Regions from separate parts of the Homo sapiens genome. Here region 1 is linked to region 2. The links come from fine-mapping of genetic effects on gene expression. A gene starts in region 2. The other region holds a variant in brackets. All regions are shown on one strand. Distances are from middle to middle.

The links.
Region 1: its variant is fine-mapped to the expression of SZT2 in blood mononuclear cells (TOPMed, PIP 0.98).

The regions. Positions count from the first base shown.
Region 1 is chr1:43,320,560-43,323,466 of GRCh38, forward strand. TIE1 (tyrosine kinase with immunoglobulin like and EGF like domains 1) reads left to right here. Exons shown (of 23, transcript NM_005424.5): 20 at 710-750; 21 at 837-933; 22 at 1,057-1,156; 23 at 2,092-2,549. The coding sequence ends at 2,163. Among named protein-coding and RNA genes, the nearest start is that of MPL, 16 kb to the right of the region's middle. RefSeq lists an enhancer at 384-1,583. The variant A/G (reference allele first, on the strand shown) is at 1,207.
Region 2 is chr1:43,388,339-43,391,245 of GRCh38, forward strand. SZT2 (SZT2 subunit of KICSTOR complex) reads left to right here and starts at 1,561. Exons shown (of 72, transcript NM_001365999.1): 1 at 1,561-1,657. The coding sequence starts at 1,631. It overlaps MED8 (mediator complex subunit 8), which reads right to left and starts at 1,462. Exons shown (of 7, transcript NM_201542.5): 1 at 1,421-1,462; 2 at 1-90. The coding sequence starts at 1,426. RefSeq lists an enhancer at 1-111 and a silencer at 1,552-1,881.

The sequences.
Region 1 (2,907 bases), 68 kb before region 2:
ATACAAAACATGGCCGGGCGTGGTGGCTCACGCCTGTAATCCCAGCACTTTGGGAGGCCAAGGCGGGCAGATCACAAGGTCAGGAGATCGAGACCATCCTGGCTGACACAGTGAAACCCCATCTCTACTAAAAATACAAAAAGAAATTAGCCGGGCATGGTGGCGGGCACCTGTAGTCCCAGCTACTTGGGAGGCTGAGGCAGGAGAATGGCGTGAACCCAGGAGGCAGAGCTTGCAGTGAGCCGAGATCTCGCCACTGCACTCCAGCCTGGGCGACAGAGCGAGACTCTGTCTCAAAAAATAAATAAATAAATAAATAAATAAATAAATAAAAATACAAAACATTAGCTGAGCATGGTGGCACACACCAGCTACAAGGGAGACTGAGGTGGGAGGACCACCTGATCCTGGGAGGTTGAGGCTGCAGTAAGCCACTGCACTCCAGCCTGGGTGACAGAGTGAGACCCTGTCTCAAAAAAAAAAAAAAAAAAAAAACAAAACAAAAGAGCTCTAATTGTGCTGAGCCCAGGGATGGGGGCAGTATGAAGGAGCTTCATTGGCGCAGAGACAACAGCTGGCCAAGGCCAGATACTTACAGAGTAGACACATACAGCGGGGCTGGGAGGCACTGCACATCTTGGGCAGGTAGAAGCTAAACTGCTAGGGACCAGGGCCTAGAAGGTAACTAAGTGCATCCTTCTTATTTCAGCTGGTCCTTTGGAGTCCTTCTTTGGGAGATAGTGAGCCTTGGTGAGTTCCTGATCCCCGTCCCCCAGAGTGCCCCACCTTACCCCACGTGGAGCCCTGGACCGAGAGCACTTTGTCCCCTCCTGCAGGAGGTACACCCTACTGTGGCATGACCTGTGCCGAGCTCTATGAAAAGCTGCCCCAGGGCTACCGCATGGAGCAGCCTCGAAACTGTGACGATGAAGTGTGAGTCACCCCATCCTTGAGCTCCATGATCCTATCTCTGTGATGAGTGACCTCAGCTTTGATCCCTGTGACCCCATCACCCCAGCTGGCCTGACTCCTCATCTCAGCAATGCCCCCTCGCAGGTACGAGCTGATGCGTCAGTGCTGGCGGGACCGTCCCTATGAGCGACCCCCCTTTGCCCAGATTGCGCTACAGCTAGGCCGCATGCTGGAAGCCAGGAAGGTGAGGAGACTGGGGCTGAGGTGGCGGGCTGGGCTCACAGAGTGCTCCAG[A/G]GTGCCCTCTCAGAGGTGCCATGACCCCTGTCCCAACCACACTGCCTGCCCAACCTCCCTCAGTGGGGGCTGTCACCACGGCTAGGCTGGGCCCCAGGATGCAGCCTGCCTTTCCAGCCCTCACTGGTTTAGACACCAGGCCCTTCCAAAACTCTTCCAAGGCCACTGCTTAGCCCCAACAGCAAATCCCTACCTTAAGCCCCAAGTCCCAGACTGCTTGCCTGTCCTCTGCTGAGGCCATCAGCCTGTCCTCATCTGGGACACCTCTCCCCACCTGCCAGAGCCAGAGCAGAGTGCATGAATAGTCACTAACCAGATGGATGGATGGGTGAATGAGTGATACAGTAACCGTATGAATGAATGAATGGAATTAGTGGATAGATGATACAATAATCATATGAACATGTAATTCAATAACTCAATCTACTAACCATGTGAATAAGTGAATTATCAAATAAATATAATGAAAAATATATCAAAATTAGTAAATATGAAGAGTTCTTCAAGTAAATTAATGATTAAATAACCATCTTAAGAATGAAGGAATGATCAAATAACCATATAAATGGATGAGTCGTCTAAAATGGCTTTTGAACAGATAAGTTACTGAATGAATGAACGCATAAGCCAAGAATTCATTGAAAGAGTGCATGTAAAAACCCTCCTCTAACAATGGCATTGAGAGCCTCTCACCTGAGGCCCCAACTGTGGCCTGATGCCTTCACTGCCCTGGGCTGGTAAAGGCCACTCTTGGCCATGGGGCCATCTTAGGTCTCCAGAACAAATCAGTGTCAGTTCAAATGCCCCCACCACATGGAAGTCCAGGAGCTTGAGGCCAGATGCACCCCCATTCCTGGCCCCCACTAAAGCTTGCTCTGCCCCCAGGCCTATGTGAACATGTCGCTGTTTGAGAACTTCACTTACGCGGGCATTGATGCCACAGCTGAGGAGGCCTGAGCTGCCATCCAGCCAGAACGTGGCTCTGCTGGCCGGAGCAAACTCTGCTGTCTAACCTGTGACCAGTCTGACCCTTACAGCCTCTGACTTAAGCTGCCTCAAGGAATTTTTTTAACTTAAGGGAGAAAAAAAGGGATCTGGGGATGGGGTGGGCTTAGGGGAACTGGGTTCCCATGCTTTGTAGGTGTCTCATAGCTATCCTGGGCATCCTTCTTTCTAGTTCAGCTGCCCCACAGGTGTGTTTCCCATCCCACTGCTCCCCCAACACAAACCCCCACTCCAGCTCCTTCGCTTAAGCCAGCACTCACACCACTAACATGCCCTGTTCAGCTACTCCCACTCCCGGCCTGTCATTCAGAAAAAAATAAATGTTCTAATAAGCTCCATTCAATGTCTACCTTTTACTGCTGGTCAATCTTGGGGTGAGGGGCGTAGTTAAACCCAAGAGACAGAAACTGGCCGGGCGTGGTGGCTCACTCCTGTAATCCCAGCACTTTGGGAGGCCGAGGCGGGTGGATCACGAGGTCAGGAGCTTGAGACCATCCTGGCGAACATGGTGAAACCCCGTCTCTACTAAAAATGCAAAAAATTAGCTGGAAGTGGTGGCGGGCACCTGTAGTCCCAGCTACTCGGGAGGCTGAGGCAGGAGAATGGCCTGAACCTGGGAGGCGGAGCTTGCAGTGAGCCAAGATCGCACCACTGCACTCCAGCCTGGGCGACAGAGCGAGACTCCGTCTCAAAAAA
Region 2 (2,907 bases):
CTTGCAAATGAAACTCCCCAGAGAGTTCTTCAGATCAGCCACTTGACTCAGCAGTGCATCTAATGATGCCTCAAGCTGCTTCTCCTCTCTCTGCACCAATAGGAACAGGTTGGTCACCCAGATAAACGAGTATGACACATAGAAAGGAGGGCTGGAAAGCCAAGGAGATGGTGTGCAACACCAGTCAGGTAACACAGGATCTCATTGGCATAGGATAGCCAGGTTGTTTTCTATCTTTGGTATTTGGGTTATAGACAGCATCAACCCTGAGACCTTCCAACCTGTTTGCCTGACCCCAAGTCCTTCCACCAACTGATTCCTTTTCCCCATCACCTCCTAATCTATGCCTGGTTTTTCTCTGTGTTAGGTACACCCTACACTCCCTCACTGAGACATTTTCGACAGACCTAATGCCAGGAGATCATTCTCTCATGTGCACCTCTGTAGCACATGCACTCCAGCTTCCTCCATCCTAGCATCTGTGAGCCTGGCTGTCTTGTCAGTCTCTGGGAAATCTGCCTACTCATGAAGACTTCTCTGAACACCAGTCCTGCTCTCCCCTTTCCCTCCCCCAACCAACGACTCCAGCTTTCCATCTGCTCTCATCATTTTGTTTCAACCTTCTCCTTGCTGAATTAATATGCAATCATCTATCTCTGTGTCAATATTCCCGTGCCTCTTTCACAAGCTCAGTCAACCCATTAACATTTATTGAGACTACCAGCTGCAAGAAACTAAGTGACAAATGAAAAACAAAAACCACACATGCTTCTAAGCACTGGACAAACAAATTAAAATGCTGGGGGTCTGCAAAGCATTTCCTTCCCATCGGTGGTCTCCTGTTTTACTCCATTTCTTCACCCTTAACAACTATAGGGCACAGGCTGGGAAGAGGGATGCAAAACTGTCTTGCAAACCTGCCTGACAGAAACTTGATCCCGGGTTCCACCATGGCCTCTGATTATAAGCTGCTTAGCTTTCAGCCATCGCGGCCCACAATTCCCTCACTGCTTGGGCTTCTTTCCAATTAGATCCCCTGCTATATCGGCAACCAACAGCCTCCATCCAGCAGCTTAGGACAGGGCCTGAGCCAACCCACCACCTTCTTGAGCCGTCTTCCTTGGACTGCATCTCAGCCTCCCCGTATTACAACCTAATCCTTTCCCACGCCAAGCAAACAGGTGCTGCCTCCTCCCTCCGGATTTAGCCCGACTGTCTCCTGTCAGGCAAGCTCCACCCCCACCTCTAATCGCCGCCGCTCCCGCTCCAATTAGCCTCGCCCCCCAGCCCACATTCCCTTATCAGCCGTGGGTTCTGCCCTCTCTTCTCAGTCCCAACTCTTCATTCTCCTTAGCCAGCCCACTCTCGGTCCCTGTACCCGAAGCTTGCCAGCCGCTAGTACGCCCAACGCAACTCTCACCTGCATTGCGGCGGCCGAGGCGGCTGCCACGATTTCACTTCCGGTTTTCCAGTCAGCAAACGCCTACGAGAAGGCTTCGTCCACCAATCAGAAAACTGGAACTCGGCCCTCCCACCAACTTCCGGTTCCTGCTGGGTGCCGAGGTAGCGAGGTCAGGGGTCAAGAGTGGAACACCCTCACTGGCCCGGGCCGGCGCGGGAGGGCTGTGTGATGGCCTCGGAGCGCCCGGAGCCGGAGGTGAGGGGCGGGCGGGCGCAGCACTGGGCCCCGAGATCCGAGGGGGAGGGTCCGGCGGGCAGGCGTGGCGTTGGCCTCCTCTAGGTCTGGGGGTGGCCGGGCTGCGTAGCCTCGGCAGGGACCAGCCCAGCCCGGAAGGCCCGACTATGGTACCCCTGCGGACTGTGTATGGGACGCGGTCCGCAGTTTCCTCGGGGAGCTAAAGGAGTAACTGTTCGCTTTGTTTTGTTTACTGACATGTCACCCGCGTCGTCGTCTCTAAGACTTATAGCGGTGTTAACAAAACTTGTATTTTGACTTTCTGTTGCAGTTTCAATGGGCAACACGGCAGTAGATTTACTTTGCTGGTTTTTGCATTTCTTTAGGCATTGGAATACCATAAACAGCATGAATTTATTTAGTTCTAGGGCTCATGCTTTTAGAAAAGCAGCTTTAATTTCATGAAAAAAACATTTGAGTCGGACTGAGACCTCGTTCCAATATTGGCGCTGTCATGTAGCTAATCTGTGCAACCTCAGGCGAGTCTTCCCGGATCCTGTTTCCTTCTTTATAAAATATCTGTCTTATAGTGTGTTGTGAGAATCACATGTAATAAACCAGAAAGGTGATATGATATATTCGTTAAATGCTAAGGAACATGCAAGGAACCTTATATATGTTGTGTCATTCAGACTTGTGCAAGGAAGGTGGCATTCTCACAGAGGAGAAAACTGAAAAATGAGAAAGATTTAGTACCTTACTCAAATGCCACTCATCCAGGAACTAGCAGTTTGGAGTTAGAAGATCTGAGCTTAAAATCTCAGATTCGGATAAAACACCACCACCAGGAAAGGTGCCAACATATCAGTAGGTGGGAAGGGTGAGAGATGTGTATAATGATAGAAATAGTATTCATTACTGCATACATACTGCATGCTCAGTACCATTCTAAGCTCTTTACCAATATCAGTTAATCCTCAGCCCTATGAAGTGGACACTGTATCATCTCCTTTTTTTAGTTTAGGAACTGAGGCACAGAGATATTAAGAGTAACAAAGTAAGCCGGGCGCAGTGGCTTACACCTGTAATCCCAACACTGGGAGGCCGAGGTGGGCAGATCACCTGAGGTGAGGAGTTCGAGACCAGCCTGACCAACATGGAGAAAGCCTGTCTGTACTGAAAATGCAAAATTAGCCAAGCATGGTGGCGCAGGCCTGTAATCTCAGCTACTCGGGAGGCTGAGGCAGGAGAATCGCTTGAACCCGGGAGGT